Linked DNA regions of Homo sapiens. The protein of the gene in region 1 purifies or fractionates together with the protein of each later gene. This does not show direct contact. Each region holds a gene or a part of one and is shown in the gene's direction. Other genes may lie near its edges. The genes, in order: THEM5, NBR1 and MGME1.

Region 1 (3,753 bases):
AGGGCAAGATCCGGAATCTAGACTCTGACTTGGTGTCCTGCCTGGCTGCTGCTGGCTGTGGGACTCTGAGCAAGCAATTGACCCCTGGTCTTTAGTCTTCTTACCTGAAACCTGGGGCAATAATATCTACCTGCCAGGGTGACCAGAGATATGATATTATGGGCCTATGTGTGCGTGCTCATGAACCGTAAAGCACAGTACAGCTATCAGACACTTCTACCCAAAACCCATGTTCTATCCATGGGGAAATGGAGATGCACACAGCTAAAGTAACTTGCCCGAGGCAGCACCAGCAATCAAAGTCAGATCCAGGACTCTAATCTGGGAGGTGAGATTCCAAGTCCACTGTTCTCTCCACTCTACTCTGCTGCCTCCAGACTTGGAACAGACCTCAGGAGGAATGCACACTGGGCATAAATGTGTCCACAAGGGAAATCAGGCTGACCGTGGGTCACCAAGTTCATGGTTGTCCCCCTTCTCTTCCATCCGGATGCCTGCTCCAGACAGTCACTGAAGGCTGGAGGTGGTGCTGGAGCTCCTGCAAGGGAGAGACAAGAGAGGGCAGGAGTGGCTTTAGGGTCCTGAAGCCTGAGAGGGGCTTAACTGGGGTTAAATAGAATCCAGAGTGCTAAATAGATGTCAGGGCCTCCAGAGGCTGTGGATGCCAACTGCAGCCCTCAGTCACCTTGGCCATCCCAAAGGAGTCCTCCACAGGGACACTGCTCCACACACTAGGCTGTGCAGATACTAGTGAATTGCTCAGAGCCCTGCCCAGGCCATGGACTCCCTCCTTTCTGAAGCATGGCTGACTTTTATTTAGGGGCTGATGGAAGTGAGGCCAAAGAGGCAGAGGAGGACCATCCAACACTAAGGCCAGTCAGTGGATTGAGGGGTTGGGGGTCTAGAGAAGAGATTAGTATCCACCAGGCCCCTAGACCATGGGGAGTGGGAAGGAGGAGTTACTCGTTGGCCAAGAGCTACTCTGTAGATCCACATACTGGCCAATGGGTCCCCAGGCTGGCCAGTGAGGACAAGGAGGAGAGAGTTGGTTTCGAGTTCTTTGACACCAACTCTTTTCACTCTCTTTCAAGCAATTTGGGAGGCAGACAGGGAAGTGCCTAAGAAGTGTGTAAATTATGTTTGCAAACATTTGTTTATTTAATCTGCTGAGATCAGAATTGTGAAATTCATGGTGGAAAAACTAAGGCTCAGAAAGGTTTAGCAATTTGCTCAAGATCAAACATGTAGTGAGCTGTGGGACAAGGAGTCCAACTGGGTGGATAGAGACTAAAGAAGCAGGGAGGGAAGGGTCTGGAAAAGCCACTGGTCACAGCAGCAGGAGGGTAACCCATGGCAGTACAGTGTGGACAGCTGATCTGGCTCTGTGGAGAATGGGCTGTGCTTTTGAAAATCAGGAACTCAAATCTGCTTGGTGTTATTTGAATTCTAAAATGGGTGCCTATTTTCCCAAATTAGCCAACCATGAAGTAGCTGACATAAAGCTTGCAAAAGCAAGAATGAACATTTTACGCTTTTTTTTTTTTTTTTAATTTTGAGACAGTCTTGATCTGTTGCCCAGGCTGGAATGCAGTGGCACAATCTCAGCTCACTGCAACCTCCACCCACCGGGTTCAATCGATTCTCATGTCTCAGCCTCTCGAGTAGCTGAGTTACAGGCGCTTGCCACCACACCCGTCTAATTTTTATATTTTTTAGTAGAGACGGAGTTTCACCATACTGGCCAAGCTGGTCTCGAACTCCTGACATCAAGTGATCTGCCCACCTCAGCCTCCCAAAGTGCTGGGATTACAGGCGTGAGCCACTGCGACTGGCCATTCTATGCATTCTAAATAAAGCAAATGTCTGCGGCATTTGAGCATTTCAGCTCAATTTCAGCATTGAGCCTGCTGAAGCAGGCGCTCTGCTTTCTGTGGCAACGCTGCTCAGAAGTGTGTCATGCCAGCCCTTGATAGGTCATAAGTTATGTTTCACATTTACTTATCTTGAGATGTGGGCCCCGCACTGGCTGTAGTGACTGGTAAGGTGAGAAACAGCCCAGGGTTGTGCCTCAAAGACTGAGTCAAAAAGTTCAGGGACTTTTTCATTTCCTGTATATGCCCATCCTTCCAAATTATGGCAATTATTGCCAGCAATTAGGTAATGAACCAGAAAAATGTTTTCTATTAACTTTATCAGAAAAAAACAATTTCCCTGATGAAATAAAATGTTGTATCATTGGCTGCAAACGCATGCTGAAGCAAAACAGAAAAGCTCAGTTGATTTTGACGGGTTTGATCAGATGGGATGCAGCTGTTTCCTTCTTTCCTATTTGGCTGCCCTGAGGCTGAACGTCTGTGTTTGGAAGGGTCTAGGGAAAGGGAAAGGTAGGATCACCACAGGAGGGAGGGAAGGCCCATTGAGGGGGTCTGCCCAGCAGCCCCAGCCCAGGCCTTGCTCCTCACCTTACCCCACCCCCAGGTTTGCTCACGGCGGGTCCCTGGCAGCCATGATGGACGAGACCTTTTCTAAAACTGCCTTCCTGGCTGGAGAGGGGCTGTTCACACTAAGTCTCAACATCAGGTTCAAAAAGTAAGTATGGGCCCCTGGGGCATTGGCCAAAGTCACAGACCTTTTCATCCCTGGAAGTGGCCATCCTCGGCAGCTGGGGTGTAGGAGCCCTGCCTGCCACTCTCCTTCCCCAGCCCACTCCCAAGCAATTCCTCTAGTCCCTGGCCAGGACACAGCCTCTGCTGTCCAACTTTGGGAGCTGACAAAAAGGCCCTGAGCCCAGGGCCACTTCTGAGTCCTCGAGGCCGGGAGGGATGAAGAGAGGGAAGAGGACACAGAGAGTGAAGGGATGGGGAACCGGGTTCACATGAGAGATGGGCTAAGCTGCCTCGTCTCCCAGCTTGATCCCCGTGGACTCTCTGGTTGTAATGGACGTAGAACTGGACAAGATTGAGGACCAGAAGCTTTACATGTCCTGCATCGCCCACAGCAGAGACCAGCAGACAGTTTATGCCAAGTCCTCAGGTAAAGGAGCCCCCAGCCCAGCCCCAGGCCCCGTCCCACCACCACCCACCCCCAGAACAAACAGGAGGAAGAAAAGATGCCAATGATTCATCCCAAGCTGCGGTCCAGCTTCTTTAGGGGTGGGATAGGGCACCTACTAGGGACACAGATGAAGCAAGGGAGAGCAGAACTAGGATTTTTTTTTCTATATATGAGTTATCCAACCTGTAACGAAAGGACAGGACCCAGGTAATGGGTAATTTGCAGCCAAATGCTCAGAGTGTCCATCAAGCTCCAGCCATCTCAGTGCAGCTCTTGCAGCTCAACTCACCCTTCTCTTGCAGGTGTTTTCCTTCAGCTGCAGTTGGAAGAAGAGTCTCCCCAGTAACAGTCACTGTGCCTGCAGGAGAGCCACTGCCTCCCCTGCCTGCCTCCTGCCTCCTGCCTCCCCTGCCTGCCTCCTGCCTCCTGCCTCCCCTGCCTGCCTCCTGCCTCCCCTGCCTGCCTCCTGCCTCCTGCCTCCCCTGCCTGCCTCCTGCCTCCTGCCTCCCCTGCCTGCCTGGGACCCATCAAAGAGCAGGGAGGGGTCCTCAAGCAGCAATTGGTGAGGCGAGGGAAAGGACCCTTTTCTCTGAGTAAATAAAGTCTCACAGTCCCATTCTCGGCCCAGGGCCTTTCTGTGGTTGGAAATCAAAATCCTTCCAGGGCATCTCACATACCCACCTTCCCATTCAGCACCGA
Region 2 (3,653 bases), on another chromosome or scaffold:
ATCTTTTAGAGGTACATACTCAATTCTTAATGGATAAAAGCATAGATGTCTGTCAAAATAATCTAGTAGGGAAAGGGTATTGCTGTAAACCTTTGGTTACAGCAAATTGGTCCTGAGTTGATAATTATGAAAGAAGCTAGCTTATGGGTCCATAGGGATTCATTATATTCTCTCTACTTTTGTATAGATTTAAATTTTCCCATAAAAATATTTTAAAAAATAGTCCGGGCATGGTGGCTCACGCCTGTAATCCCAGCACTTTGGGAGGCCGAGGTGGGTGGAATCACGAGGTCAGGAGATCGAGACCATCCTGGCTATCACGGTGAAACCCCGTCTCTACTAAAAATACAAAAAAATTAGCCAGGCGTGGTGGCGGGCGCCTGTAGTCCCAGCTACTCAGGAGGCTGAGGTGAGAGAATCGCTTGAAACCAGAAGGTGGAGGTTGCAGTGAGCCAAGATTGTGCCACTGCACTTGAGCCTGGACGACAGAACAAGACTCTATCTCAAAATAAATAAATACAATAATATAAAATAATTATATTATTATAGTTTGGTTAAAACATTAGTTGACTATGGTCAGTTCATTGTTGGGGCAGAAGTGGGAGATGCGGGGGTATATGTGAATGAGGATAGCCTTGAGTTGATTGTTGGTTTAACTAAGTGTTTATTACTCTCCACTTTTATATATGTTTGAAATCCCCCATTTAAAAAATCAGTACAAGGCCAGGTGCGGTGGCTCATGCCTGTAATCCCAGCATTTTGGAAGGCCAAGGCAGGCAGATCATGAGGTCAGGAGATCGAGACCATTTTGCCTAACACGGTGAAACCCCGTCCCTACCAAAAATACAAAAAAAAAAAAAAAAATTAGCCGGATGTGGTGGCGGGCACCCCAGCTACTCGAGAGGCTGAGGCAGGAGAATGGCGTGAACCCAGGAGGTGGAGGTTGCAGTGAGCTGAGATCGTGCCACTGCACCCCAGCCTGGGGCGATAGAGCGAGACTCCGTCTCAAAAATAAATAAATAAATAAAATAAAATAAAAAATCAGTAGATTGTGAAAAAACATAGTAACTTGGATGGAGGGCATTGAATGCTACCTCTGTGTAGTTTCTTGGCTAGTGTTTTGGCCTGTAAGTTCGTAAAACTGGTAGAAAACCTAGGTTCTCAAGTTAGGACAACCCTCCTTCTGCAAGAAAAATGTAGAATGTCACTCTCAAGTCATACAAGAATACAAGTTCCCTGAGGGCAGAGACCTTATCTCTCTTATCCATGTTGGTATGTCCTGCTACTAGTAAGTATTTGTTTAGTTAACCAGTCATCATAAAGTACCGTAAGGATTTTACAAATGCTAGATGATTTCTGGGAATGTGGTCAAAATTTAAATACTTTCAGCATACTTCTGTTTCCACATGTTTCCAACATGTGGAAGTTCCTAATAACTTCAAGAATAATTTTTGTGACTTAAGTACAAGTCTTTATGGCATGGTTTTAGCCTATCTTTCTTTCCTGAAACAATTCCTATTTAACAGTGATGGTAAGTTTCGTAAGAACAGGGACAGTGTTTCTTTTGTTCATTGCTGTCTCCCAAGCCCAGCCCATATTGGGTCCTCACAAGTATTTGCTGAGTGAACTTTTAGTGCAACTTATAGAACCCTTTCTAATGTGTTTTTCTCTCTCTCCCACCAACCTTCTCAACCCTAGCCTCACAGCATGGAACCACAGGTTACTCTAAATGTGACTTTTAAAAATGAAATTCAAAGCTTTCTGGTTTCTGATCCAGAAAATACAACTTGGGCTGATATCGAAGCTATGGTGAGTGTTACTTTATTTTGTTTCTCCTTGGTTTAAGCATGGTTATTTTTTCCAAAGGTAGCTATTTTTAGCAGTGTTGTTTCATAGCTGTGAAGTCTGTCATAGTTACCATTTCTGGGCCTTTTGGAAAATTGCTTTTGATAGGGTTTCAGTATTCATATATGAGATGTGCCCCAATAAAGGGAACCAACACATAAATTTCCTTTTGAACATTTTAGAAAGGGAAGGTAAAATTGTTTTTAGTGAGATAGGATTTAGAAAACCTATTAATTTTAGAACCAGTATGAGGAGTGAATTGGTGTGGACTCCACCCAACCAGATCCCAAGGAAATGTTCTCTTGTGTGAGGATATGACTTGTGTTTTGCACAAGGATATAACTTGTGTTTTGCAAGAGCCTATCAATTGTTTTTATTGCTAGGTCAGAGGTTGAGTATCTCAGAGTTGAGCAGGAAAAACTTTCATACCTGCTTAGACAGCAGTTCACCTGTTCCGTTTTTTTGCTAAGGCTTTTCCTCCTCTTGGTTTGCCCTTTGTACTCTTCTGTTTTTGTTCAGTTTGCAGTGGTGAATGTTTTACTTCCTGTGTTGACTGTGTTTCTCTCTGAAACCCTTTGGTAAAAATCTACGTTTACCTGGTTATATCTGATGATAACTAAAAAGGGAAAGAAATGGTAGATCTTAAAAGATGATCTGAGGTAGTTGTCTGCCTTCCAGCAAATACCTGTTCATACTGTCCTATCAGTGACAGTGAGACCCGTCTCAAAAAAAAAAAAAAGATTGGATTCAGAAAGAAGTTAGATCTTGTTTGCCAAAAGATGTGAAAATCAGTTATCTTTCTTTTCCTAGTAGTTAAATGAGCTGACAGCTTGCCTTTTTTCTTCCTTGTAAATTTTAAATTGTATAAGTATAATACATGCCCATTTTAAGAAGAGAAACCATCTCAAGCAGTTAATAGCCCTCCATTCTCCCCCCCCTCATCTGTTACTCCCACCTTCTTTGGGTAACCAATGTTAACAGCCCTGTATGTACTTTAAATTTTCCATGTTCATGCAGATATCATACTAGGATCATACTATAAACATTATTTGGCCAGGCACAGTGGCACACGCCTAGAATCCCAGCACTTTGGGAGGCCAAGATGGGTGGACCACTTCAGCTCAGGAGTTTGAGACCAGACTGGGCAACATGGTAAAACCCCATCTCTACCAAAAAAATACAAAAATTAGCTGGGCCTGGTAGCAGGCACCTGTGGTTCCAGCTACTCCGGAGGTTGAGGTGGGCGAATTGCTTGAGTGCTGGAGGTTGAGGCTGCAGTGAGCCAAGATCAAGCCACTATAATCCAGCCTGAGCGACAGAGTGAGACCCATCTCAAAAAAAAAAAAAAAAAGATATTTTTCGTTTTTTTTTTTTCTTATCTTGAAACTTCAGGAGATATCCATCTATACACATAACTTATACACTGTTCTACAGGATAAACTCTGTCCTATACAAATGTGAGATTAATGGGTCACAAAGCATTTTATTTGAAATTTTAATAGATTCTGCCAAATGCTTTGCAGAACAATTGTAGCAGCACACAGAAATACATGACAGTGTCCTGAAGTTTTGACAACACTGGATGTTATGGCTTTAAAAAACATTTGCTGTTCCCTACCCCACACCCCACCCAAAACACACACACACACACACACACACACACACACACACACACACACACACAGTTTGGTATTCTGATGAGATGTCATCTCATTGCTTCAATTTGCATTGTTCTGACCACCAGAAAGTTTGAAAGTCTTCTGATGTATTTGTTAGGTGTTCTGATTTCCTCTTGTATGAATTTTATG
Region 3 (2,956 bases), on another chromosome or scaffold:
AAAAGCACTTTTTGGCTGGGCACAGTGGCTCACGCACTTTGGGAGGCCGAGGCAGGCAGATTGCTTGTGCTCAGGAGTTTGAGTCCAGCCTGGGCAACATAGTGAAACCCCGTATCTACAAAAAAAATACAAAAATTAGCTGGACATGGTGGCGCACACTTGTGCCAGCTACTTGGGAGGCTGAGGTGGGAGGATTGCTTGAGCCCAGGAAGTGGAGGTTCCAGTGAGCCGAGATTGTACCACTGCACTCTAGCCTGGCCGACAGAGCAAAACCCTGTCTCAAAAATAAATAAATAGGCCAGGTGTGGTGGCCCAAGCCTATAATTCCAGCACTTTGGGAGGCCGAGTTGGGCAGATCACCTGATGTCAGGAGTTCAAGACCAGCTTGGCTGACATGGCGAAACCCTGTCTCTACTAAAAATACAAAAATTAGCTGGGCGTGGTGGTGTGTGCCTCTAGTCCCACCTACTTGGGAGGCTGAGGCAGGAGAATCGCTTGAACCCAGGAGGCGGAGGTTGCGGTGAGCCAAGGTTGTTCCACTGCACTCCAGCCTGGGCAACAGAGCAAGACTGTCTCTCTCCAAATAAATAAATAAATAAATAAATAAATAAATAGCACTTTTTGGCCAGGGGTGGTGGCTCATGCCTGTAATCCCAGCACTTTGAAGGAGGCCGAGGTGGGCAGATTGCTTGAGCCCAGGAGTTCAAGACCAGCCTGGGCAACGTGACAAAACTCCATCATTACTAAAAATAGAAAAATCAGCCGGAAGTGGTGCCCGCCTCAGCTTCGAGGGTGCAACGAGCCGAGATTGTGCCACTGCACTCCAGCCTGGACGATGGGAGTGGGATCCTGTCTCAAAAAAGAAAAAAAAAGCACTTTTCCACCCTCTTCTTGGGCCTTTTTTTTTTTTCAATGGCTCTGTAAGGATCACAGCCCAGTCTTCAATGTTTTATCTGTCATCTTTGTGTTCTTGTGTCCTGGTGCAGTCTTTGATCAACCTACCTTAGAAACTGAGTTAGGAGATATCCTGTAGATTATTTTATACTGAGTTTGCCCTGGAGTAAGAAGGAAACGAACCTAAACTCTGGACCTACTGTAGTGAAACGAGAATTGCCCTGTGTTTCTTCCTAGGTTCAATGTGGCTTAATTGTGGTGGCCTACAAAGATGGATCACCTGCCCACCCACATTTCATGGATGCAGAGCTCTGTTCCCAGTACTGGACCAAGTGGCTTCTTCGACTAGAAGAATATACGGAAAAGAAAAAGAACCAGAATATTCAGAAACCAGAATATTCAGAATAGGGAGCAAGTTGCTATTTGGGAACATTCAGCACCTTCTCACAGTTTGGGAACATATATTGCTGTTTACTCCAGTGTAAAAATGAGGTGCCACTGGATCTGAGTGCTACACGAACACAAGTAGAAGTATTAATTTGTTGAAATGTGTTGTTACCAAAAAGACTGAAAAGCCCCAAAGTCTAGATATAAAGACCTAGACTTCGGCACGCGAAATCCCAGCTATGCTACCTCTTATTTACCTGAAAGGAGGACACGCAGGATGGGCAGTCATGCTGGTGACTCTTGTACTCCCTTGAGGGACATTGGGGGGGGGGGGGCGTGGTCCCAGGCAGGATGCCCAGTCTTTGAGCTGAGATTGGAAGGCAGTGAGGCTGAGGGTGCCAAGATTTCCCCAGGGTTCACCCAGAGGGGAAGGGGCTACATGCCCCCAGCTGTGTGCAGGGAGGACACATCAGCCCACTACCGCTGCCAACACCAATGCCTAAAACTTGTTTCATACATTGGGGTTTTCTATATATTTCAGCTGGGAAAAGCTTACATTTAACCTTTTGAAAAAATAAATACGTGATTAGCCTCAACTAAACATTGCTGACTATAAAGACAGTATATTCACCATGTCGCTGGCAATATGTCATTGCGTAACACCAAATAACCCCCCAGAAGTAGCCAGAGGCCAGTTTGAACATCACAATTCTAAGTGTTTTAGTAACTATTTCTGGCGTGAGTCAACAGATCATGTAGATAGAGTCAATTATTGTTTGTGGAGTTTTTCAGCTATAGGGGAGGGGAACTATTAAAATCCATTTGTTTCTATTCAATAGGTAATAAAAATTAGTTGTCCCTGGGTTTGGGAAACTTAAATGCCCATTACAGCCCTGGGGAAGGGTTTTCTGTCTTATGGAGTGAGTCTTAGCATTTAAGTTATACAGTTGCTGCCTTAAAATAGTAGCCTGCTACAATGACTTCTTTGGGTAGCCATTTTCATAAGAAATAAAATACAAGATATGAGTAATGAAGCTTTGGTTTTGTTTACTTTGTGTGTTTATAGGATAATTTTATAAACCTGGAAATTGTTTGCACTTTTTTTATAATTCAGAATTTTACAAGCCCAATAGCTTTGGTGAGAGTTCTGTGTAAGTGCATAAAAGAAAGCGTCCTCGGCTGGGCGCAGTGGCTCACGCCTGAAATCCCAGCACTTTGGGAGGCCGAGGCGGGCGGATCACAAGGTCAGGAGATCGAGACCATCCTGGGTAACACGGTGAAACCCCGTCTCTACTAAAAATACAAAAAATTAGCTGGGCGTCGTGGCGGGCGCCTGTAGTCCCAGGTGCTCCGGAGGCTGAGGCAGGAGAATGGCGTATACCCGGAAGGCGGAGCTTGCAGTGAGCCGAGATCACGCCACTGCACTCCAGCCTGGGCGACAGAGCGAGACTCCGTTTAAAAAAAAAAAAAAAAAAAAGCCTCCTCACTAAGCCCTCAGCCACGGTCACCTAGCAAGGAAAGCAATATTCAGGTAGGAGATGGGAGGATCAAGGGGGACCTTTGTATTATCTCTATACACTTCTGCATTCATGTGGGTTTTTCTCAAGCTGCAGATACATATTTCTGTAGCCTGTAAATTCCAGTCAAAAATGAAGTGAGGCAATTAAAAGTTGTG

What was found.
Region 2: the proteins of THEM5 (region 1) and NBR1 purify together in Homo sapiens (affinity purification with mass spectrometry; one large-scale study listed by BioGRID and IntAct). This does not show direct contact.
Region 3: the proteins of THEM5 (region 1) and MGME1 purify together in Homo sapiens (affinity purification with mass spectrometry; one large-scale study listed by BioGRID and IntAct). This does not show direct contact.

What each region holds. Positions count from the first base shown.
Region 1 is NC_000001.11:151,847,018-151,850,770, reverse strand, and holds the end of THEM5 (acyl-coenzyme A thioesterase THEM5), read left to right. Parts: exon of another isoform or gene 1-538; intron 539-2,478; coding exon 2,479-2,589; intron 2,590-2,908; coding exon 2,909-3,033; intron 3,034-3,356; coding exon 3,357-3,400; coding exon of another isoform or gene 3,401-3,651; 3' UTR 3,652-3,670; downstream 3,671-3,753. UniProt on the Homo sapiens protein: Has acyl-CoA thioesterase activity towards long-chain (C16 and C18) fatty acyl-CoA substrates, with a preference for linoleoyl-CoA and other unsaturated long-chain fatty acid-CoA esters.
Region 2 is NC_000017.11:43,174,093-43,177,745, forward strand, and holds part of NBR1 (next to BRCA1 gene 1 protein), read left to right. Parts: intron 1-1,698; 5' UTR 1,699-1,707; coding exon 1,708-1,809; intron 1,810-3,653. UniProt on the Homo sapiens protein: Ubiquitin-binding autophagy adapter that participates in different processes including host defense or intracellular homeostasis.
Region 3 is NC_000020.11:17,988,808-17,991,763, forward strand, and holds the end of MGME1 (mitochondrial genome maintenance exonuclease 1 isoform 2 precursor), read left to right. Parts: intron 1-1,131; coding exon 1,132-1,302; coding exon of another isoform or gene 1,303-1,379; 3' UTR 1,380-2,315; downstream 2,316-2,956. UniProt on the Homo sapiens protein: Metal-dependent single-stranded DNA (ssDNA) exonuclease involved in mitochondrial genome maintenance. Has preference for 5'-3' exonuclease activity but is also capable of endonuclease activity on linear substrates.